Regions from separate parts of the Homo sapiens genome. Here all the other regions are linked to region 5. Evidence: fine-mapped expression QTL. A gene starts in region 5. Each other region holds a variant in brackets. All regions are shown on one strand. Distances are between the middles of the regions.

Region 1 (5,104 bases), 67 kb after region 5:
CAGGAAGTAGGGAGGAATGAAGATTTTTCTAGCAAAGTGGGTTTGAATTGAAAAGGGATTGTGGGCCGGGCTCAGTGGCTCACGCCTGTATTCCCAGCACTTTGGGAGGCCAAGGCGGGTGGATCACCTGAGTTAAGGAGTTCAAGACCAGTCTGGCCAACATGGCGAAACCCCATCTCTACTAAAAATACAAAAATTAGCCGGGCGTGGTGGTGGGCACCTGTAATCCCAGCTACTCAGGAGGCTGAGGCAGGAGAATCACTTGAACCTAAGAGGCGGAGGTTGCAGTGAGCCAAGATTGCACCACTGCACTCCAGCCTAGGTGACAGAGTGAGACTCCATCTCCAAAATAAAAAATAAAAAAGAAAAAGAAAAAGAAAAAAAAGAGATATTGTGGCTCTTCCCTCAGCTCAGTAGAAGATCTGAGAGTAGCACTGTTTCCATTTGCCACAGGGTCTTCTGGGTCTCTTGCGCAGAATCATCTTTTTGTGCCACTTACAAAGCACAATCCTTGAGAAAAGTTTTTCAGTTTGCAGGACTGACCGTGATCTTTTTAAACAGGGAGACTGCTTGCTGTCAGTATCACCTGTATTTTGCATTGAGCTTTCTGAAACTGAGGAGGACCAGGTAGCTCTAGGGAGCTCCCTTCCAGCCTCCAGGATGCTGATGCAATGACTGAGCAATGGAGAGTTTTGCAATATGCTTACAGAACCAGACCAGCTTGCTTTTCCTAAGGAAACCTTGGTGTCCTAAGAAAACCTCAGGCTGGGTCCCTGCCCTGCCGGGTTGAAATTCCTTCTGTCTTCTGGTAGCATGCCTGTAGCACATGCTCTGTAACCAGCTTTAGGGAGTCCACAAAAGGCTTTGGAATGAAGTCAAATTTCAGTGCAAACTCAGTCTCTGCCTCTAACCAGTTGTGTGATTTTTGGCAAGTGACCTAACCTCTCCCAGTTAAAGTTTCCTCATCTGTGAAACAGAGTCAATAACTACTTTGCTAGGTGGTTATAAATATTAAATAAGATGAGTATTAAGTGGTGCATAGCAGATTATCTTACATATATTTTCTTCTATTACAAAGTGCATAATATTTTTCTGTTTTTGTTTTTTTGAGACAGAGTCTTGCTCTGTCACCTAGGCTGGAGTGCAGTGGTGCGATCTCAGCTCTCTGCGAACTCCACCTCCTGGGTTCAAGTGATTCTTCTGCCTCAGCCTCCTGAGTAGCTGGGATTACAGGCACAAGCCACCACGCCTGGCTAATTTTTGTATTTTTAGTAGAGACGGGGTTTCACCATATTGGCCAGGCTGGTCTCAAACTCCTGACCTGAGGTGATGCACCCTCTTCGGACTCTCACATTGCTGGGATAACAGGCATGAGCCACTGCACCCAGCCAAAGTGCATAATATTTCTACTAAGGAAATTAGTGTCTCTTGGCTCCATCTTAAAAAAAAAATCGAATTTCCTGGCTTTCCAACTACACCTTTCCTTCTGGCCTCACCCTGATATTTGAGTTCTGCAGATGGATATGCTCCCTATAGTAAATGCACCTGTCTCAGATGGGTTCAGGCAGAAAATTCTATTTCCCCAAAAGTGGGCTGAGCCAAAAGGCTATCCTTGCTTTTCCAGATCTCTTCCCTCAGGAACAAATTGAAGACCAAGATGAGGAATTTTTGTGTAACACAAGAAAACATAAAGAGGATTTCTGCATATAAATCTGTGTTTTCCTTTGTAAGACTTTTTATCTACTTATTTTTATTCAACAAACATATGAAACTTGCTGCGTGCCAGGCACAGTTCAAACCATTTTACAAATATTAATTCATTTAGCCCTCATAACCTCATGAGGTAGGTGTTGTTACCCCAGGTGGCAGTTGGGAGCCTTTGAGCCATAAAGAGGTTCTGAACTTGCTGAAAGCAACATGGTCATGCAGGTGACTTGAAGCCCAGGCATCGCAGTGGGGATAGAAAATTATTGTACAAAAATTAATGAAGAGAGCACATCTAAAATGCCTTCTTTCCACAAAGGGTTCAAGATGTTATCACGGGGGATTTAAATTTAGGTGAAGCAGCAACACTGCCATCCATCACATAAGTTGAAGAGATACCTAAGCCTGGCTTCCCACTTGAACTTTTGTGAGCTGTGCTTCCCTGGGGTGCCCCTTAAGACAGTTCTGGTGAGGTCATTCTTCCTTCCTTGATTGATTTTTCTTTTGACAAGCATTTGCTGGGCATTGACCATGTGCCAGGCACAGTGCTAGGTACTGGATTCCAAGATAATTATAACAAGTTCTAAGCTCAAAGAGCTCACAGTCTTAACGGGAAAAGTGGAGAAATGAACAGTCACACATGCCCTAAAGAAAGGACTCTGCAAGGATATCTCTGCCATTCTTCGCAGAAGCAAGCCTCACCTCTCAACTTAGAACTGGCGTCAGTACATTTATTTATGTGAGAGGCAATTGCCACAAACTGTCCACATAGGATGCCTTTTGTTCTTTGATTGGCTTGCTCCTTCACCACATCTCTCTTCTCATCTCTCTGTTGTTTGGACTTCTTCTTCTT[CCTCTT/C]CTCTTCTCTTCTTCTTCTTCCTCTTCTCTTCTTCTTCCTCTTCCTCTTTCTCTTCCTCTTTCTTGTTGAGTTGAAGTTTCACTGGGTCACCCAGGCTGGATTGCGGTGTCACAATCATAACTCACTGCAGTCTCAACCTCCCAGGCTCAAGAGATCCTCCTGCCTCAGCCTCCCGAGTAGCTGGGACCACAGGCATGAGCCACCACACACAGCTGATTTTTTATTTTTTGTAGAGACAGGTTCTCACTCTGTTACCCAGGCTCGTCTTGGACTCCTGGGCTCAAGCAATCCTCCTGCCTTGTCCTTCCAAGGCATTGGGATTACAGGCGTGAGCCATGGGACCGTGCCTGAACTTCTTATCCATCTTCCCTTTTTTTCTCCTAGCCTTTTGCTTTCTTCTTAGTCACCCACAGACCTTTCCAGGGTGTCTCCCAGGCACTTATTCTCTGAGCCTAATGTTTCTTGGGAAACCTTGACACAGACCTTTTCAAGTTCACAACAGGTTTTGATTTGTGACATTGGCATTTCCTGTCTTCTTGTGACTTAAGTGGTGAACAAAACATCTCAAGATGTTCTCTTATTCAAATGTGGTTTGATTGGGGAATGCTAAGGTCAAGAATGTTTCAAGGAGCAAGACATCAGAGTGGGTGCCAGGGATAGGGAAAGCAAACTCTGAGGGCAAAGTGATAAGCTCTCTCCTGCTTTCAGCCTCCTAAACACCACTGTCTGCATTAAACCCTCCCTCTTGGGAGGCCGAGGCAGGCAGATCACGATGTCATGAGTTCAAGACCAGTGTGGCCAACATGGTGAAACCGCGTCTCTATTAAAAATACAAAAATCAGCCAGGTGTAGTGGCAGGTGCCTGTAATCCCAGCTACTTGGGAGGCTGAGGCAGGAGAATTGCTTGAACCCAGAAGGTGCAGGTTGCAGTGAGCTGAGACCACGCCACTGCACTCCAGCCAAGGCAACAGAATGAGACTCCATCTCAAAAAATAAAAATAAATAAATAAATAAATAAATAAACAAACAAACCCTTCCTTAACAGAGCCCAGATTGTGTTACTGGGAAAAGTGCAGTGGCCGGAGGGAATAGAGAAACTGTTTTGTTTGGAGTTCTGAGAAAGGGGACTCAGGAAGCTGTTGGTGATAGAGACAAACAGGTCTTTCTTCTGCTAATACTGCTTGTTACTCATTAACAAGCCTGCAAAGAAAACGTCTTTAAGACAAGAACTTTATCAAGAACTTTGCGCTTCTCTTCCATAAACTTCATTGCCCTGTTCCCCAACCCCCCAACAAACTTAAAGTACTGTCATTTTCAGAATTCAGTGACTCCTGGGTCTGCAGGTGATGTAGTTTCATGCTGTTAACTCACCGGAAGGCAGTGGAACCAGATGCGTGTTTTTCCTCCTGCTCCTCCGCTCTGGCCCCAAAACAGAAACTTTGCCTTCCTTTGTTTCACCCATTTATCTACCCAGAAATCCACCCATCTAGCATTTGTTGGGTGTATACTTTGTGCAAAGATCTGTAATGGCTACTCTAGAGGAGAAAAACGATGGAGAAGACATGCTCAATGCTTTCAGGAGCTTGGAATCTGTGGAGGAGACACATGTAAAGATAATACGATAAACACAGATACAGAAGAGATTTTATAGAACTTGCATTGACTTTTCTCTTTTCCTCTTTCAAAGTGATATCATTCTTTAAAAACAGGCCTCCTGCCTCTGATGCTTTTTTTCTCCTCTATGAACTCTAGGAAGGCCAAGTTGAACCTTTAAGGAAAGAGGGTTTGTGGCAGACCAGGACAGGGAAAGACATTGGGATCAGGATGGAATCCAAATGTTGAAATTCCAAGATTTTCAACAGCAGAGGACATATGCTGGGGTTAGAATCAGGCCTGGCTCCATGCTATGCCTTAGGACCAACAGAGACATGTATAGCTCAGATGACAGCAGCAGAGGCAATGTTTACTTCTCCAGGATTCCTTTGCACAATTTACTGCCCTTTCTTCAAGAGCAGAACAACCAAGAGCATGCCAAAAGTCATGGCACATTCAGCCCTTTAAGGATTTCATCACTGGATTAGCTGATCTTAGGTAAAAATTTAGGAAAGGAGGTGGGGAAGGGTAGGGGTGATGCACAGAGTAAATGATACATTTGGTGGCAACATTTTGTTGAGCACAGTTATGGTGTTTGCACATTGCTTTTGAACAAAATGATAAATTTCAATCAGGTCTGGCAAGCGTTACAAAGTCATTCTAGGTCAAATGGATAACAGAAGCCTCTATATAGTTGAGTCCAAAATACAGACCCTAAGACAGCCTTCCTTCTCTTTTTTCTCTTTCTTCTTTCTTTCTTCTCGAAACGGAGTCTTGCTCTGTCACCCAGGCTTGAGTGCAGTGGCACCATCTAGGCTTAGTACAACCTCTGTCTCCCGGTTCAAGCAATTTTCCTGCCTCAGGCTCCTGAGTAGCTGGGATTACAGGCATGTGCCACCCACGCCCGGCTAATTTTTGTATTTTTAGTAGAGACGGGGTTTCACCATG
Region 2 (5,104 bases), 150 kb after region 5:
TGGATCTGTGCTTTCTTTAACAATCAACTGAAGTTTTTAAACATAAGGCAAATGTCTTCTCCACTTCTTCATCTACTCCTACAGCCTCATCTTGTAGGGAAGACACAAGTTCTTAAGCCATTAAGCCAGACACTACTTGCACCAAGGGAAGGAACTGCCAAGCTTAAAGCTTCCTTTACTAGCTGTGAGAAAGCTTGCCCCTGAATGTTTAAATTATTGATTTGCTGGGGGAAAAGTAACATATGAATCAATGACATAATTTTCTTATTACCAACTGGGTAATACCAATTGAGTATTACTTTGCATTATAGAAACATGTTACAGCTGAAAAGACTGTACTCCATAGTTCTCTAACCTTGAAATGCATGATTTTCCCAGTCACTTTGTTGGCAGCAGCCACCGTTGGGATTTAAATCTCTTTCCTCCCAGGATCACTGGATGCATATTTACTGAGCACCTATTATATCCCAGAGTCTGTTCTAAATGCTGGAGACACAGTGGTGGGCACAAGAGGACAGGCAAAGTCCCTGTGTTCACAGAATTCCATTCTGGTAGGGGATACAGACAATCAACAGGTAAATCAACAAATATGGTAATAGCAGACTATGCTTGCTATAAGGAACATAAAACAGGCTGATAGGATATGGAATGAGATGAGGGGGTGATCATGGGTAGGGATACTACTTTAGATAGGATGATCAGGGAAGGTGTCTCTGAAGAGGTGACACTGGAGCCAAGACCTATAAGATGAGAAGGAACTAGTCATGGGAATATCTGAGGAGGACTTCCAGGCAGAGGGAACAGTACAGGAACAGTAAGTACAAAAGCCTTGAGATGGGAGTCAGCGTAGTGTGCTTGAGGAACAGAATGAAAAGTGGCTGAGGCAGTCTCTGGGGTATACTCTAGTTGGAGTGCCACGTATCACCACCATGCTGAGGCTGACCCAACAACCAATCACTGCTGCTTAACAATTCCACGTCCTCCATGCCTAACATGGCAAAACAGCATCCCAAAATGCAACTGACCAATTCTCATCTGAGTGTCAAATCCACAGGCAATGGAGCACGACATGCTTGGTCACCACACAGGGTAAGGCTGGAGTGGGGCTGGACGAGTTTGGCTGGTTTGAGGAAGTTGTTAATTTCTGATTGTGGGCTCCATCTAGAAGTCAGCTGTGGGCTAAGGAGAGGGCTGGAGCAGGGCTTCTCATGAGGCACCCTGGGACGGCTGTGGTAGGATGAGGGTACAGTGTGGGGGTGGGAGAGATGGGATGGGCCCTGAGGAAGGATGAAATTGCATCCAAGGCAAGGTGCTATAAGTCCCTTCAGAAAAAAGTCACCATTTTGCTTCTTTTGCGAATCCTGGGAGCCATACTTACCCTGATAAGCTGATGACTTTCTAGTCAGCCAGAATTATCTAGCAAATAGCCAGGTAGCAGTGCTTCACTGCTTTTGCAGAAACCCTAACTCACCCAGACTGGTTCTGCTGTGCTGTCCTCAAGTTTTTGTGTTGTTTTGGAATCCTCTACATGGTCTTCATTTTAAATACAGATACCTCATCTTCTCAGAAGGATTGTACCTCCATTATAGAGAGAGACTCTTCATTCTCTTCTTTGGATACCCTTGCAGTAGTTAGCACAATACCGACCTAGATCTTTCCCCTTCTCAACAGGTAGACTATTTCAGAGGGAATGTCTCATGTGGTTTAATCCTGTAGTGGGAGACCAGATAGTGGCTTGTGCTGCCAAAAGATACTAACATTTGGGATTTCATGATTGAGCTATGTGTGATGAGAAACTGGGCTGCTTACCTGTTCTTCCTGCAGTGAATTGTAAAGGCAAGAAAGAAAAGTATCAGCAGAAGTCCACAGCTGAGAAAAGTCCAAACAATACCCAAGAGGACAGGAGATAATGAAGAGATGGTCTTACTGCTGTGGTGGGAAGATGTCTGAGGACAGAATAAGGAGGAGCTGTTAGGAATGAAGGATCTTCTATAGGTCAAAAACAAACTGCCCCATCGTCACCAAGTGCTGGGAAATATGTATCCTGCATGAGCAGTTTCTCCTCCCACTCCTCCCCTTCCTCATCCCCCTTTCCCTCCACCTCCTCCTCCCCAACACCACCACCACCACATACATCTGAGCAGCCCTGGCATCCTGTGGCTGCTCACTTACAATTGTTGTCTTGCAGAGATCATGAAGGGGTCTCCGATCCAGCTCCTGGCCAGGAAAACTGTCACACAATTCAGAGCAGTTTATTTCAGGCTCCATGTCACCACATGCCCCTGTTGGTGTGTGCTTATTCACAGTCTTGGTTACCCACTGGTAGGGATGTAGATCTTTGACTAAGACACAAGAGCAACTCAAATCTTTTCTTCAGAGGCCCCATTTTGGAGCTGGCTGCAGGCTCAGAATCCAGAGTGAACAACCCATTCAGGTAGAAGCAAAGGGTTATTTCGCTAGGCTCCTTCATCAGACATCCTTCAACTGGTGACCCTCCAAAGTCAGACATCCTTCAACTGGTCCCCTGCTGCGAGTGCATGCCATGTGAGTCAAGAGTGGACATCTTAGTAACCATCAGGCTACACAAGGTGATGATTCTGGTTAACCACCAGATGGCAGTCACTGTTCGAGTACCCTCACTCTGGTTCCTGAAGAAAGGAAAGCAATTAAACCTGTTAAACAAAGGCATGTATACACACACACACACACACACACACACACACACACACACACACACACGTAAATGGTTTATTAGAGAGGTTTTAAAATATCATCTATTTTAATTATATAGTTATATTTTATTATACACTTTATTATATATATTACAAAGGTATCAAATATCATATATTTAAATCAACATATTTTAAGCCATTATAGTAAATAATATTTTTAAAACAAAGATAAAGCATATCTAACATTTTCTGCAGTTTCTTTTCAGATCCTGTTTATGGCCCAGTACTGTAAAGACCTTAGCTTAGACTTGTGAGCCACATTTTTCTTTTTTCCATACTGGGAAACCCAGTGCCCTCCCAAGATCTTTCTAGGCAGCTCATGGCTTAAGTTCTG[T/G]CTGATCCTGGATGGTGCTGGGCTCAGGTGCCCCATGCTGTCTCCACACATGATCTGTCGGTCACTCTAGCTCTTGTTCTCTCTAGCTCTTGTTCTCTATGTCCAGTCGGCTGGGGTCAAAGAAAGGTACCCAAGCTGCCTGCAAGAGTCTTTGTGTGTTTGTATTTAAACTGTGAGACTAACAGGCGTGAGATAGACTACTCAGGCAATAGGGAAAGAAACTGGGGAGCTCTAGGAACTCCTGCAGAGTGAGTGGCTGGCCAGAGGATGGTGTTATTTCTCTCAGAAGATCCTTGCAATATGAATAATGTGATCTAAAGAGAAGCTCAGCCTTGTGGAACAAAGACAGAAAGGCAAAAAGGCTCAAATTAGCACCAGTAGAAAAGATAGCCATATCCCTAATTCTTTAAAACAATCAATCCCTTAATAGAGAAAATAGATTTGAAATTTTACCAGTGGTAATCTAAAAGAGGCTGCCACTTCTGCTTTGTATTTTTTAAACAGCTTAGCACAGTTTTCTTTGATTGTGGAGGAAAATTGGACAAGGCAAAAATATCCATTACTATTATCTCAATAGCCACTGAACACAGGGCCCATGTTTAAGCCAGAACAACAGTGACAGGTGGAGAGTGCCATCTTTGGAGTCTGTGTGCTTAGGCACAAATAATATAGCACCAGGTGCTGACCATTCATTGGCCTCTCATATGTTCCTGAATTATTTACCAGGTTTATTACAATGAAATCCCAAGAGAACTAAAAGCCACTATCTCCCATCAAGGCATTTAAATTATTGCATATTCTAGTCAGATTATTGAATGCAAAATTAAGAAGCAAATATAAAAACCTATTTGCATTCTAATTTAGTTGAGATTTTAATTGCTAGAAAGATATTTTTTCTTTTCTTTTTTTTTAAAGTTAGAGATTTCCTATTGTGCCTTCTAGCACAGAACCATACTGCAACCACAGGGAGGATTATTACAACATGATGGATTAGAAGAAAATGTATTTTTCCTATATTGCCCTTTTAATCATAGTGGCAAATAAGTACACTTATATTTGAACCATTATTCATTCAATGTTTATATATTATTATATCATTTGGAAGAAGTGTATATGTATATGTATGGGTGTATATATACATAAAACCTCATTTTGTCCTCACTACAGTGTTTTGTGATGTAAACACCATTCCTCATTTTCAAATAAGTAAACTGAAAAGCAGAGAAGAAGAAAACCCTGCTCCAAATCTGCAGAGGCAAGAATCCCAGGAGTTTACATTCCAAGGTCAATGTCATCCCAGTATACACTCCACATGGTGCAGACACTCTGGACTAACTTCTTCCAAGAAGATACCAAGGGGCCTCTTGGGTTTCTTCAGCTTTAGTTCCCAGAGGTGCACTTCTGTGGGCTCCCTAGAGCTTGGCATGCCATAGTGCCTCTTTACCAGTAGTTCTCAACTATGCAATTTTGCACCTTTAGGGGACATTTGGCAATTCTGGAGACATCTGTGGTTGTCAAAATTAAGAGAAGGATGCTATTCACATCTAGTAGGTAGATGCCAAGGATGCTGCTAAACATACTATAATTCACAGGATGGTCTGAACAACAAAGAATTATCTGGCCCCAAATGTCAACAGTGCTAAGGTTAAGAAACCCTGGTCAACACTGTGCACCCCAGGTGGGCTGACAATCTTAAACTTAAATTATCTTTGAGGGATTCTGTAAATATGATGGGGTTGTCCATCTGAGCCTAAAGTCCTGGGGGATGCAACTCTGACTTGGAATAAATTTCTGAGCACATTCTAGAGGTACCCTTGGATAAGCTAAACTCACTGGCTTGGAACCCTGAATGCTAGGCCCCTCTTCAGTCCATGGATATCCAGTGTAGAAACTTTATATACCGTGATATTGGGCTCCTACATGGGACAGGCATTAAACTGCAAACTTGGCACACATTCAGAGAGATTCACACAAGAGGAGCTGATGAAACAATGAAGGGCTCAATCATTGAAAGGAAAGAGTTGAATGGTTTCAAAAA
Region 3 (5,104 bases), 270 kb before region 5:
CAATGTCCTCTCAAGTGTATCTTTCCAAGGGAAGTAACTTTAGAAAAAAATCTGGACAAACTTATTCACAGTGGTGAGATGTATCCCTGACCTGTCCCCTTCCTCTGGGCTCATCAGCCTTTGACCTCAGCAGCTAGCTCAGCCTGCTCAACACCCCTTCCATCTCCTCCCAGGTCACTAGTTTGAAACTGTGCTAAGATTTGCAAAGAACTTTGGTCAGGCAAACAAAGAGCCACCTGTAGAGCATGTGTGCCTGAGTCTTGCTTGCTGCTTCCCCTCTGGCAGCCTCCTGTACAAGCCTCTACATCACTAGCACTAACTGAGAGCAAAACAAAACCTTAACAAATCTACTAAGAATCTTCCCTGTAGAGTTCCAAACTTTATTGACCTCCCTGGGTTACGAATGATACACATTTCTTTGTCTGCCACACCTGCCACCAACATGCCAAAGGCAAGTCTATAAATACCCGAAGATATGGATTAATTTTACAAGTGACATTTAAGTCCCCGTTGAGTTATACCTGCTAAGCTCCCAACCAATTTCAAGCTGTGCACTATACCAAAGTCTCACACTAGACTTTAAAAGAAAACAAAGTTCAAAAAAACCCATCAGCACAGAAAAAGGTTTTCTTCTTTTGTGGAAGGGGCATGAGGCAGGAGTCCTGTTTTTAAAGTATACAACAGCAGACTTTTAATAAAAAAAGATTGTCGTGGGAGAGAGATTGTATGTTCTAGTGCTCCGCTTTCCCCCTCCCCACAACCCCTCCCACCCCCTGGATCTCCCTCAAAGTGAGAATACAATGAAATTGGTTTGTATTTATAGATATTTTACAAGGTTAAATAAGAACAACAATAATAATAAAAAAATTGAACACTAAAATGAACAGGATTTTTTTCTCTTTTTAATATTCTTTCCAAACGTGACCAGTGTTGCTGAGTGACACTCAAGTAACTGGTGGTTTTTCCTGTGCAGCTGGCTGCTCGGGACTGTTCAGGTGGAGTTGGAAGCTGATGCAGAAGCAGCATTATTGGTCTGTCCACGGTCTCCAGTATTAGCATCTGCAAGTCAAAAAGTCCCAAGAGAGAGCATGAGCAATGCTATAACAACAAAAGAGAACAAGTACACTGTTTCAACTGCAGGCTGTGAACTGTATGGCCTTCCAAGCTGTTATTTGGAACGTTGTTTTAAATAAGGCCAACACTATGAAATCTGAATTTCTCTATTCTTGGATTTAAGTTCATGCCTCAGCATGGTCCTGGTACCGGGAAGACAGTGTCTTTGAATAAGTTGCAGACTCAGGGAGCCAGAGACCATTTCAGTCAAAGCTCTTGCTACAGCTGGGATCAGCTGTATATGAACACTCAGCTGGAGTCTAGTTCACTTGAAAATAAATGAACAGTGCACAGCTGGGAAAACTTGCTAAAAATTTGAACCATGTTACAATATGCCATCTGCTTAAGTAAGTAAATAGGTGGAGGCAATGAAAGTAACGTGGGTCAGTGTTGATGGGCAGAACAGACCCTCTTCATTATTCATAGAGATGGAAGACAGACAACCAGCAAAAAAGAAACAGCAACTGCAGTACCAATTCACTTAGTCAATTTAATAAAGCATCTTGTATCAACAGATGAATGGATAAAAGAAAATGTGGTATATATACACAATGGGGTAATATGTAGCCATAAGAGAGAAAGATGGGAGGCTAAGTGGGAGGACTGCTTGAGCCAGAGAGGTTGAGGCTGCAAGTGAGCCAAGACCACCTGGGAGACACAGTAAGATACCGTCTTTAAAAAAAAAAAAAAAAAAAAAAAAGAGAGAGAGAGAGAAGAAAGAAAAGAGAAAAGAAAAAGAAAAAGAATGAGATCCTGCCATTTGCAACAACATGGATGGAACTGAAGTCATTATGTGAAGTGAAATAAGCCAGACAGAGAAAGACAAACTTTGCATGTTCTCACTTATTTGTAGGAGCTAAAATTTAAAACAACTGAACTCACGGAGTTAGAGAGAAGGATTGTTACCAGAGGTTGGGAAGGGTAGCGGGGGTGGGGGAAGTGGGGATGGTTAATGGGTA[C/CA]AAAAAAAAAAATGTATAAGACCTAGTATTTGCTAGCAAAACAGGGTGACTACAGTACAAAAATAATTTAATTGTACATTTTAAAATAACAAAGTATGACTGGATTGTTTGTAACATAAAGGATAAATGCTTGAGGTGATGAATATCCCATTTACCCTGATATGATTATTACACATTCCATGTCTATATCAAAATATCTCAGGTAACCCATAAATATATACACCTACTATGTCCCCACAAAAATTAAAAATTAAGAAAAGGAAAGCATCTTGTAGTCAAATCTTGACGTAGAACTTACTTAGAGCTTACTTTGCCCTAATCTTTTAGAAATACGTACAACTCTACAACTAACCATTATCTCCTCCCCCCTTTTAAGGTCTATTATTATTTCACAGCATCCATTAACATTTAAGTGGGCATCTAACTGTGTCCAAATTGGTTTAGTAGACTGCTGTTTTAGTGGCTATCAAGTTGCATCCTTGTCATCTCTCTTAATGACAGAGAAGGTACTGCTGGCCAAATTTTCTCCCAAAGATTTCACACTAAGCCCTGAGCAAGAGAGGTAGCTTGACTGGGATGGGCAACTTTGAAAAGCCATCTCTCTAGAAGCCACAATGCCATCAAGGTTGGTGACACCGAAAGGCAGACTCAGAAGTTTTTTTCTCTCTAGGACTGAAGGGATTTGTAGATCTACCATGTGCTATGGTGAGTAGAATAACCAATGTCATGGTTGAATGCAACGTTTGGTCCTGGATCTTTCTACTTTGAATTTCTGAATTAGAGGGAGACACAGAATATCCAAGGACACATAGGGAACTCTATGATGGATTAGCTGTTCAGTTTATCATTTCTAAAGCCAATCTATAAAAATTATACTTCCTAATTTCCCGATAAGCTGCCCTTATATACATTTAGCACAGCCTTTGGGGAAGGAATGTGAATATCTCTTAATGTGAATGATTAGGTTTAATTCATTTAATTTCCTTCAAAATAGCTAAAGCTGCTTCTAATCTTGTTGTCATGTACACAAGTGAAGATATTATGGCATCAGAATCCACACATTAGGTTCATATAGCCCATGTAATGGGGTCATATTAATTCATCAGTATGGCAAATGAACAGGTGGCAGGAAAGGGTATATGACACAGAACCTACTCTCCAAAGCCAGGCTGACCACCTTTTCTAACAATCACTGAGGAACTATGCTAACACTTCATTCGTGACTCCTGACCTTCCTTAGATATGCCCTGTTTAAAGAAGTTTTACCCTTAATGATCATCCACATTCTGTGCATCAATAACCTAACATCAATTCCTGTCTAGACCACAGATTCCTCCAAGCCTTTCTCAGATAAAATGTTCATTTTCATGATTCATGCACAGGCTGCATTAAAAAAAAAATCCAGAGAAAACCTGGAACACCACAAACCCATGCTTATTGCAGCATGTCACATGCTCTGATGACACTCAGAACCTATGCATGACCATCATCCAACAGCATTTCCTTCTCATTTTCAGTATGGGAAGATAACAGGTAGAACTGTCATTCTGGTCTTCCCCAGGACTTATGGGAGGCACTGATCATCAGAAATTTATCTATCTGTTTGACCACTACATCAGCACCCATGCCAACATGGAGAGAGCAGCTCTGGCCACGGCAGCCATTAACTACACTGGCTGACATCAGTTTTACCTCATCTACATGGCCACCAGCCCATTTATGTTAATTTGCTCTTTAGCAAAATCCTATTTGGCATTAATGTGCAGATGTCCTTTCACTGACTACAGCCTGTGAGCTTGTGACATTGCCAAAACCAGTCTCCTCTTTCTTGGATAAATTCAACGACTGCTTGCATGATCACAGTAAAAAGCACAAGCCTTTTAAGTGAGCATAAAACCAGAAACAAATTCACTTTCTGAACAATAAAATTTGATAGACACCCATGCTCTTCAGACCTGTAATGATCTCATATTTTTCTCTTGAATTATTTTCAAATCACTTAATGAACATAATTTTAACGCTAATTATTTTGATTATAAATATCTTTGATATCGAAAGTCACAGTCCTACAGACATTCATCAAAAAAACTTTTGCCTGATGCAATGAGCTCCACTTAAAATCAAATCACACATGTCCTTGCTGAGAAGAACAGAGTTCTCTTTTTCAGAGGAAGACAAAGTACAGAGAGGGAAAAAGTAAAACAAAAAAAGGCAAAGTTCTATAAATTCAATACTCAATAGTAGGTTTAAAAGACCACCCAGCTTACTGACTGAGTAAAGTTACATTTCATAATCTCTACAATCCCATCATAAAGATGGACTGGCCCCTGGGCCAGGTAAAGTAGGAGGAGCTGACCTCTTGGTGGCTGGGAAGAAACTAGTTCAAGATCAGGAAACAAGACAACACAGATTACCACCTTTTTAGAAATAACTCAAGAAACAAATCTTGGCACATGCTTATTTTGTTCCCACCATCACTCTGTAAATTTATTTTACACAATGGAATCTGAATTAATGAGCTTTCTATTAAAATGTTTATTAATTTAAAATTCCGATAAATTGTCATTGGATTTAGTTTAGTGTAATTTCTGTAACTTTTCTTCTCAAACATTTAAATAGTGACTCCACAACATAAAAACAGCAAAGTTCATTTTACTTCTCCTTACATTCCCTTCCCGTTACATATGCACTGGTAAAGTGACGCTAAATGGCATTATGGTTTAAAAGAGAGGCTAAGATCATTTTCATTATAAATGATCTGACTATGGATCATTAACCCACTCTAGTCTCTTGTTTTCAACCAGAGATGCTCTTCTGAACTTCACACTGATACATCTTTCTTAAAACTAAACCAACTCTATAAACATTTATTGAGTATGAAGCCTACTTGTACAACTTAATAGCTGTGTGATTTTGGAACACGTTATTTAATCTATCTCTCATTTCCTCATTGGTAAAATGGTAGTAATACCACCCACCTATGAAATGAGGCCTATGAAGTGCTTAGCACAGTATCTGGCATACAGCAATTG
Region 4 (5,104 bases), 200 kb before region 5:
TATAAAAACTCATAATCAACTGATAAAAGCCACTCACAAAGTGAAAATCTTCAAGAATGCCAGAAACACATTATAGACAGGGTATATACAGGGTATCAACAGTTGACTTCTTAACAGAAACAATGAAAGCCAGAAGAAAATAGAGATCTCTCCAAAAACTGAAGGAAAAATAAACCCTGGAAACCAAGGGAAACCAATTTCTGCATCAAGTGAAAATATCCTTCAAAATACATTTTTAGGCAAACAAAAGCTAACCAAGTTTGTCACCAGCAGATCTTCACCACAAAAAAGTAGTTCAGGATTAAAGAAAGACTTCTGAAATGGGCATTCTGATCTACACAAAGGAATAGAGAGCACCAAAAATGGTAAATATGTGGTTAAATGTATGATATTTCCCCCTCATTAAAAAATTCCTCTTGAAGAAATTGTTTAAAGCAAAGTAACAACTGTTGCGGGAAGTCAGGGACCCTGAACACAGGGACCAGCTGGAGCCACGGCAGAGGAACATAAATTGTGAAGATTTCATTTTAATATGGACATTTATCAGTTCCCAAATAATACTCTTATAATTTCTTAAGCCTGTCTTTACTTCAATCTCTGAACATAAATTGTGAAGATTTCATTTTAATATGGACATTTATCAGTTCCCCAAATTAACAGTTCTGTAATTTCTTATGCCTGTCTTTTTTTTACTTTAATCTCTTAATCCTGTTATCTTCATAAGCTGAGGATGTACGTCACCTCAGGCCCACTATTGTGTTAACTGTACAAATTGACTGTAAAGCACGTGTGTTTGAACAATATGAAATCGGTGCACCTTGAAAAAGAACAGAATAACAGCAATTTTCAGGGAACTAGGGAAGACAACCATAAGGTCTGACTGCCTGCAGGGTTGGGCAAAATAGAGCCATATTTTTCTTCTTGCAGAGAGCCTATAAATGGATGTGCAAATAGGGAAGATATCACTAAATTCTTTTCCTAGCAAGGATTAATACTCTGGGAAAGAAATGCATTCCTTGGGGGAGGTCTATAAACGGCTGCTCTGGGAGTGTCTGTCTTATGCCATAGAGATAAGGACTGAAATCCGCCCTGGTCTCCTGCAGTACCCTCAGGCTTAGCAGGGTGGGGAAAAATCCCGCCCTGGTAAATTTGAGGTCAGACCAGTTCTCTGCTCTCAAACCCTGCTTTCTGTTAAGATGTTTATCAAGACAATACGTGCACTGCAGAACATAGACCCTTATCAAAAGTTCTGCCTTTTGTCCTTTGTCCTGTTTCCTCACAAGCATGTGATCTTTGTTCTGCCTTTTGCCCTATGAAACATGTGATCTTGGGACCTACTCCCTGTTCTTGCATCCCCTCCCCTTTTGAAATCCTTAATAAAACTTGCTGGTTTTGCAGCTCAGGTGGGCATCACGGTTCTACTGATATGTGATGTCACCCCCGGAGGCCGAGCTGTAAAATTCCTCTCTTTGTACTCTTTCTCTTTATTTCTCAGCCAGCCGACACTCATGGAAAATAGAAAAAACCTATGTTGAAATATTAGGGGCGGGTTCCCCCTATAAACAACAAATATTGTAAGGATTATAACATGTAGAATTAAAAAGTATGAAAACTATAGCACAAAGAACAGGAAGGGGAATGGAAATACTGTCACACGGTTCTTGTTTTCTATATGACATGGTACATTACTACTTGAAGACTGACTGTAATATATTGATGCATATTTTAAATCCTAGACCAACCTCTAAAAATGCAACAAGGAGGTATAGCTTAAAAGCCAATAGAAAAAATAAAAACCACTGATTTAATCCATAGGTGGCAGTAAAAGAGGGGGAAAAACAGAGCAAAGGAAAGATGGGATGAAAGGAAAACAAATACGAAGGTGCAAAACTTAAACTCAACCACAGTGATAATTACACTGAATGTAAATAGTCTAAGTACTTCAATTACAAAGGCAGAAATTGTCAAACTCAATTAAAAAACACCTAACTATATGTCTGTAAGAAATGCACTTTAAATTAAAACACATAGAGTAAAAGTAAAAGAATGCAAGAAGTTATACCATGCAAAATCATAAGAAAGATAGAGTGCCTATATTAATATTAGAAAATGAAGACTTCAGGATAAGAAAATTAAACAAAAATAAAGAGGGGCATTTCCTAATGATAAAAGTCATTTTAAGACTAAATCTAAAATTATTGAGAATACCATGTGTTGATGAGAATGTGAAGCACTGGAATTCTGATGTGTTGTTGGTGGGAGTGTAAAATAGTAAAACTGCTTTGGAAAATAGTTTGGTAACCATACACTTACCATATGATCAGCAATTTCAGCCCTACTTTTTTATTCAAGAGAAATATAAACATATGTCTGCAAAAACACCTGTAAACAAACATTCATAGGAGCTTTACTCATAATAACCAAAACCCCAAAACAAGTCAAATGTCCATTCATAGGTGAATGGATAAAGAAATTGTGGTATACTCATAAAACAGAATACAACTTAGCATAAAAAGGAATAAACAGGTGATACAGGCAGCAACACTGACGAATCTCAAAAACATGGTACTGAGCAAAAAAAGCCAGATACAAAAGAAATATATGATTTCGTTTATGAAATTCTAGAATAGGCATCTGTAGTGACAGAAAATAGATCAATGATCACCTGAGACAGAAGATGGGAAACTGACCACAAAGGAGAATGAACAGGGTGACCAACCATCCCAGTTTGCCTGGGACCATCTTGGCAAACCCCTCAGTCCAGGCAAACTGAGACATTTGGTCATTCCAGGCTATAAAAAGAAACATTTTTAGGGTGATAGAAATGTTCTAAATCTTGACCAGGGTAGTGGTTATATGGGCATGTTTGTTGGAATTTACTAAACTGTCATTTAAAATGCCTATATTTTATTACATATAAATTATATTTCTATTAACTTGATTTAAAAAG[TA/T]AAAAAAAAAAAAAAAGGGACCATTATGTAATTTGTGTTGCCTTTACTAAATGCAAACAGAAGTTTAACCTTCTTAAATTGCTATTTATAAGGCTAGCATTAAAAGTATCAGAATCTGTCAAACCCTAAAATCAGAACTATTTTATATACAATATGCATATTTTTTAAGAAAGCAAAGATGAGACATAATCAAGAGGCATTTAAAAAACTTTTCAGCCTCTGAAGTTATTCACATTTCAAAACGTTTACTTAGAGCCTATTCCTCAAGAAGCTCTAGGGCAGAGAGACTTGTACGTAAATCAACAACAATCAGGTGACAATAGTATAGCAAAGTAAGTATAGGTAATGTGTGAGGTGAAAGTGCTACACTGCACTGGAAAGAGGAAGGGATTCAGGAAAGGTTCTGGAAGGGGAGTCAAGAGCTGATTTTACTTAAGGAATGTAGCAGGCAAATGAGTAAAAAGTACATTCTATGCACACTAGATGTGTAGGTGAAAAACAGCATTCTAAAAGAGAATAAGGACTGGATTATAGATGGATGATATAATTAAAGGCTAAAAGGTAAGCAAGTGATAGATATGAAGAGCAAAGATTCAGAACGCATGACTATCTTTAACACCACAAACATAAGACATTTTAACAACTATCCTATTTCAACCTCTGAGTATATCTTTAGGTTTTATATTAAGTTTTTATTAGGTTCAGAGTATATTTCTACCTGATTTACTCCAGCTGAATTCTACATTTGGAACTTTTGAAACAGAATAATTGAATAATTTTATAGATAAAAAAGATGTTTGACAAATTATCATTTCATACACAAAACAAGTCTTAGGGTTCACTTGAATTTTAAGAGATGGAAATTTTTTTTCCTCCAAAACGTTTAGACTAAAGACATATATTTTGAGTAATTAATACTTATTCCTGGATTTCCTGAAAACTGAGTCCTTTTTTGACTTAAAGGAAATTAAACTAGATGGAAATGCTTTATGCACTCTTCTGTAAGTGTATTTCATACAAAAGAGGGGGGAATTTTAAAAATTATCACACCAATGGGAAGGGAACATATTCTCAGTTATCTATTACTAGAACTCATGATCTTTTCATTTGTTGCAAAAAGCATCAAGATCAGCCTGCCCCACCCCTTTGGGGATGTTGTTCATCCCCTTACTATTAAATCAATCAATTTATCTGTTCCTGGCCCTACCTAGTTAGAAATTTATCCAAACACTGAAAAATATCAACACAGGAATTATGAGTTGATAATTACTGTCTTCAAAGAAGTACTACGGCCCAAGAAGCACCTCACAAAAAGCAACTGACAAGCTCTGAAACGCTAGTATTTCTTCCACAACGTTGTTTATTTTATAGTTCAACACCAGAGGTCGCCAAACTTCAGCAATAGAGGTGCATGTGTAGCCTTTAAGAGCGAAGTAAAAGAAAACCTATTAGAAATGTCGCTACTCCGCTTAAAATCCTGCAATTGCTTCCAACTGCTTACAAGCTAATGTGATCTGGCCACTGTCAACAGCTCCAGTCTTCTCCTTCCTGGTAAACTCATATTCTATCAACCCCACCAGGCAGAACCTTAAGCGACAACCATAAAGAAACACACCAAACCTAGTTTTACTAAATATTTATCCACTCCCTTCCGCTCCCTATCTGGTAAATACTTTTTCATGTTTCAATATTCAGCTCAATGGTTAGCTCTCCTAAGAAGGCTTTCCAGACAGCACTACTCTGAGTGAAATGCTTCTGCCTTTGTATTCTGCTCAGACATCTGGAATAATACTGGGCTTGCCCTATTGCCCTCAGTTCCTCTCCTCCCATCCATCAGTCTCTGAAGCCCCTGAAGGCAAGAAACCTCTAAGTTCTTGCCCAGCACCTAGTAAAAACTGTTCACTAAATTAACGCATGTAGTTAATGTGGTATGCACCTTGAAAGACTAAAGGGATGTATGGCTAGGCTTATAGATAATGAATTCAATAAAGGTTTTAAAAATGAAATTATATAACACAACATAATCATTGTATAAATGGTTGAATACCTAAACATCTTCATTTATTTTCTGCATATGGAATTTGGAGTGTTGGGTTGTGTTAGATTGGCTGCTATATCCTCAAAAGGACAAATTTTTCTAAATAGAAAACATG
Region 5 (5,104 bases):
AGATATTTTTGTTAAATTCTGCAAGTATGTTTAAACAAGCTATCATTAAATACCACATGAACTTCTCCATAAATAGAGATACACTGGAACATTAGATACTTAGTATATATTAAACACTTCAAGAGCATACTTTTCAGCACAAACCCAGGACAAGAGTAGTCTATCCACAACCCTGAACACAGCCCAAATATCCCTATTATTTCTAGGACCATAGCCATCTGCAAAAGCCAAAATGGAAAGGACTAAATCCACATTCTTCTAACTAAATCCACAGTTATCTAAATATGATGGAAACTAACGCTAGAGTGTTTTAAATCGTCCTTTTTAAGGAACCCGCCAGAACATTTAACAGGTAATGAATGCAGTAGCACTCCAAAATTGAACTTAAATGTAATGAGCCAGTGACAACATTTAACTTAGTATTTGGCACTATGACAAAACAAATCTCAATCAAAACTTGGACCTATTAATACTTCCAAGTTAACTTTTGATTAAACATAAATTATACGGTGGCAGGTTGGTAATGTCAAAACAGGAAGGTTAAGAGATAACACATCAAACCACTTATCCAATTGAACACAAATGCATACAGAGATGTTACTGCTGCTAGGTATTTATTGGCTCCCACTAGTCCCTTCTAAAGAGAGAAATCAATGGCAGCCTCCAAATGTGAATGGTTACTGAGGAAGTTCATCCACAGATTAAGAACAAATATTATGTGTAGTCATACAAACAAGAAAAAAATGTTGGGAGGGTGGGACATTTAACGTCTCTATTAAGTATATCAAACTATGATAACCCCTGAGACCTAAAATATTCTCTCATTCCAAATTCCAAAAATTCTGCAAATGTGCATAATGGTTTAGTAATCAAATCTTGTCCTTCTCTTTATTCTAAAGGATGGGCAAGTAAACACTGTCATCACTACTTTAACGTGGAAACACTCGAGCACTTGATGAAACTGACTACCAACAGCAAGAAAAGTACAAGAAAGCAGTTTGAAATCGAATCATCCAAATAAATATCATATTATCTCAATTCAAGGTTAATGAGACCGGGGGAGGGGGTATGGGAGGAGTAAAAAGGGAGCTGCTTCATCCTTGACTGAAGATAGGTTTTGCCCTTTTCCATTGCCTGTTTATCAGGAGGTCTAATAATTTCAGATCCTGGTATTTCGAGGTTTCTTATTTTAAGGGCGAGGTGGAAAAGGGGTGTAAAATAAAACCAATACTCACTGCTAACTTTCATGCTGCCAAAAGCTGAAGGCTGCTGCACCGGCTTGCAGCTCTCCGCAAAGGAGGTGGTTCTGGGCCGCCCTGACATGATCACTCTCTTCGCGAATCACCTTTTCCTTCCTTCCTCCTTTTCTTCCTTTTGTCTTTATGTTGGGGTGTTAGGTTAACGATAAATGCAGCATTAAGTTCTCCCACAGAAGAAAAAGAAAAAGACTTCGTCCTCTTGGCTTTTCACTCCTTTTGTATACTATAAAAAACAAAACAAGCGATATATTTCTCCTTCAAGACAGATCGGCACGGATATTTAACATATAGATGATTTAGGACTTGGGAAAAAATACAATTCTTTCCCCTCCCTTTCCTGGGAGGAGAGAAAAGAGAGGGCAAATCCTAAAAAAATATGTATCACGTGAAACGGGGGCAAATACTTGATTGAAAATGAGTACTTCGAATATTATATTTTCCTCGGGGATTTTTTTTCCGAGTCAATGAAGAAGGGAAGCGGCGGAAGGATCACGAGTCTCACGCTTGAAGAGAAAGGGGGATGGGTAGGAGGGAGGGAGAGGGAGGGAGGGGGTGGCTCGGAGATGCGACGGGAAACGCTGCAGCTCCGGCAAGCCGCGGGATCCGGCGGGCTGACGGCAGGGGCCCGGCGAACTAGAGGGCGGCGGAGTCGCGAGTCAGTCAGAGGCGGGCGGTGGCGGTGGCGGCGGCTCCTCTCCTCATTGCGCCAGGAGCAGCTGCAGGCGGCGGCTGGATCCAGCGGCCATGGCGGTGGCGGAGGCAGCTCCCTTCAGACCCCAGGCAGCGGCTCCTCGACTGTTCCCCATTCGCCGGGGACATGGGAACCCGGCAACCGCTTCCGTCCCTCGGGGCCCCCTCCCCCGTCCGCGGCAACAGCTCGGCCGCCCTCCCGCCCCTCGGCTCTGCTCGGTGCCCGCTCAGGAAGTGTCCGCGCTTTGCCCCAGCCCAGAGCCCTGTCAGCGGCTGCGGGGCCGGCTCCTCCTCGCTTCCTTCCTTCCTTTGTCACTTGGCCCGGGCGGCGGCGGCGGCGGCGGCGGCACAAGCCCGCATTCGCCCGGGTCAGGAGCTGCTCTGTGTGAGGAGCGCTGTCTGCGCAGCCGCCTTGCACTTCCCCACTCCTCCTCCCCCCTCCTACTCGTCCTCCACCTCCTTCCTCCCCCACCCAGCCTTACACCGCCCAGCGCCCCGCCGCCCGCGTAACAGGCGTCTGGGAATCGCCGGCCGAGCCCCACGCTCGCCCGCTTCGGCTGGGAGCCGAAGCCCGAACGGAGCCAATCACGGACGTCGTTTGTTTGCGGCTCCTCCCGGAAAAAGCCGATCAGCCTGAGAAACCAATTAGAAAGTGACGCTGGGAAGCCACGCCCAAAGAGCGGAAAATGCCGAAGGTAGCCGAACGGAAAGGGTGAATTCGCCTTGTTCGGTGGCTGGCTGGAGGAGACATTCGACAATGGCAACAGTGGCCAATCAGAGTCGCCGGCCCTTACGAAGAGGCTTGAAGAGTTGAGGACGGTGAAACCCAGAGACGCTGGTGAAACTGCACGGCTGGGCGCCGCCGCCGCTTTGTGATTGGCTGGAAAACTCCGCTGGGAGCGTACCTCCTTCGGTGATTGGTGAAGAGAAGGGGGCTTCCGAGGACAGTCTGGCCAGTCAGGACTTCCCCTCCCTCTCCAAGGTGGGGAGAAGAAAGCGAAGGGAGGGCGTCTATAAAGCGCTGTCTCATTGGCCTGAAGCTTAGGCGCTGGAGTTGGGGCAAAAGGGAGAGGGAGGGAGCCCGAAACTCGCGGCGGCGGCCAATCGGCTCTCACTGCCGTCCAATCGCAAGACCTAGCTGCAGTGTGATTGGCCTTCGGCCCCGGTCCCAGGAGCGGGGAGATGCCTGACTCGGGTCGTGGCTGACGACCCGACGGTTCGCCTGCGGCCGCCTCCAACAACGGTGGAAACCGCACACAGGGACCGCGGGCCCTCGGTGCAGCAAATCGGAAAGTGCTGCGGTCGGCGGCCCTGGGCTCTGAGCGCTCAAGCGAGCAGAGGGGTGGAGGGGCTCTCCCCACCCACAGGAGGCTCTCGGCGGGGCGCAGCCAATTCTGCGCGCCCAAGGCTCCCCTCTGCCGTGGATCGCGTGTGCCGAGTGTTGGCCTCTTCCCCGAAAGGGCCAGACGGACCAAGGGGGCCTTCCCAGCCGGCTGCAAGCTCTCAGACGCTAAAATGGGAACAAAGCTTCCAGAAAGGCAGCGCCTTTGGGCGGCCGCGCCCCGCCCAGCCGCGGGGGCCATTGATACAGAGGCTTGCTGCGCTTGGTGTGCGCGGCCCGGCCGGGCCTCTGGAAACGCCCATGAGAAATGAGCTCATGCTGGATGCGCGCGCTCCTTGGGCGCAACTGCCCAGCGCAAAACGGGCCCCGAAAGCAGGTGAGGGGAAATGCCGTCAGGCCGGATATCCTGAAGCCTCCGAGGAAATGGGGGGGTCAGAGGAGCCCGTGGTAGCTTTGGATCTTTTGGAACTAGGGTGATCTATAAAAGTGCAGCTTGAGAAGATTTCATACATAAGACCAGCGTCCATTGTTCTACCATAGAACCAGTTCCTTTGGTCTGCTTTAGAACAGTGAGGTATGGCTACGTCAAGATAACAGAGAAAGTAGAACAGACAGTTGCCATCCTGATTGTAATCCAGTGGTGCCTGTAATTTCTACCTGCAGAGTCATCTCTTTCTGTTAAGATGCTGTCTCCAGAAAGCACATGTTAAAGGACCTATATTTGATCAGATTACCTGGCTCTTGCTTTGAAACACTGATGAAGGACTTGGGACAGAACAAAGTAAGCTTTGATGGAAGACAGGAAAGGTCTAGATAGTGTTTGCAGATTCAAATGGCTACAGAGGCCAGACAAGTAAAGCAAATGAGTGAGACTGGCCTTGTGTAAGACAATGGGGAATGATAGGGAAAATGGCAAATTGGAATATCCATGCCATAACTAAAAGGAACAGCTGCTCAACTCTAGCAGATTGTTGCCCTCAGGAATGTGGGTCCAGTGTTCTCAGATGTTCAATTTTTTTCCTCCCAAAAGAAACCCCAAAATTGGATTTTTGTGTGAAATCTCTGCATTTTTAAATGTTGGTAACCAAATTTTCAAACCCTGCAGGCCAACCTAAAAACATCCCTTGGCCAATGAGGCATTGGAAAAAGTGTTAATAATTGTTAGGGGCCCGATAGCAGTAGGAGGGTGAAAACAAAATGGTTTGGGACCTTAAATAATTGAAATGTATCTTTATTTATTTATTTATTTTTGAGACGGAGTTTCACTCTTGTTGCCCAGGCTGGAGTGCAGTGGCGCGATCTCGGCTCACCGCAACCTCCGCCTCCCCGATTCAAGTGATTCTCCTGCCTCAGCCTCCCAAGTAGTTGGGATCACAGGCATGTGCCACCATGCCAGCTACTTTTGTATTTTTAGTAGAGACGGGGTTTCTTCATGTTGGTCAGGCTGGTCTCGAACTCCCGACCTCAGGTGATCTGCCTGCCTCAGCCTCACAGAGTGTCAGGATTACAGGCGTAAGCCACCACACCGGGCCGGTTGAAATTTATCTTTAAAATAGTGCACCTTTAATCCTTTTTTTATTTCTGTGTGTATCTTATAATGTGCATATCATGTTAGCTCAAGATCAAGAGTTTATGGACAAGCCAGGAGTGGTGGCTTATGACTGTAATCCCAGCAATTTGGGAGGCCGAGGCAGGTGGATCGCCTGAGGTTAGGAGTTCAAGACTAGCCTGGTCATCATGGTGAAACCCCGTCTCTACTAAAACTTTAAAACTTAGCTGGGCGTGGTGGCGGGCGTCTATAATACCAGTTACT

The links.
Region 1: its variant is fine-mapped to the expression of GSK3B in whole blood (TOPMed, PIP above 0.99).
Region 2: its variant is fine-mapped to the expression of GSK3B in whole blood (INTERVAL, PIP 0.98).
Region 3: its variant is fine-mapped to the expression of GSK3B in whole blood (INTERVAL, PIP above 0.99).
Region 4: its variant is fine-mapped to the expression of GSK3B in whole blood (INTERVAL, PIP 0.94).

What each region holds. Positions count from the first base shown.
Region 1 is chr3:120,159,483-120,164,586 of GRCh38, forward strand. All of the region lies in intron 1 of LOC105374065 (a long non-coding RNA gene), which reads left to right. Among named protein-coding and RNA genes, the nearest start is that of GSK3B-DT, 67 kb to the left of the region's middle. The variant CCTCTT/C (reference allele first, on the strand shown) is at 2,558.
Region 2 is chr3:120,241,831-120,246,934 of GRCh38, forward strand. It overlaps GPR156 (G protein-coupled receptor 156), which reads right to left. Exons shown (of 10, transcript NM_153002.3): 2 at 2,173-2,648; 3 at 1,810-1,946. The coding sequence starts at 2,268. Among named protein-coding and RNA genes, the nearest start is that of GPR156, 41 kb to the right of the region's middle. RefSeq lists an enhancer at 882-2,081. The variant T/G (reference allele first, on the strand shown) is at 3,067.
Region 3 is chr3:119,825,797-119,830,900 of GRCh38, forward strand. It overlaps GSK3B (glycogen synthase kinase 3 beta), which reads right to left. Exons shown (of 11, transcript NM_001146156.2): 11 at 1-1,059. The coding sequence ends at 992. Among named protein-coding and RNA genes, the nearest start is that of NR1I2, 46 kb to the left of the region's middle. The variant C/CA (reference allele first, on the strand shown) is at 2,073.
Region 4 is chr3:119,887,794-119,892,897 of GRCh38, forward strand. All of the region lies in intron 7 of GSK3B (glycogen synthase kinase 3 beta), which reads right to left. Among named protein-coding and RNA genes, the nearest start is that of NR1I2, 110 kb to the left of the region's middle. The variant TA/T (reference allele first, on the strand shown) is at 2,951.
Region 5 is chr3:120,092,112-120,097,215 of GRCh38, forward strand. It overlaps GSK3B (glycogen synthase kinase 3 beta), which reads right to left and starts at 2,336. Exons shown (of 11, transcript NM_001146156.2): 1 at 1,236-2,336. The coding sequence starts at 1,323. GSK3B-DT (GSK3B divergent transcript) reads left to right here and starts at 2,993. Exons shown (of 3, transcript NR_186629.1): 1 at 2,993-3,667. RefSeq lists enhancers at 2,515-2,924, 2,551-2,845, 3,125-3,444.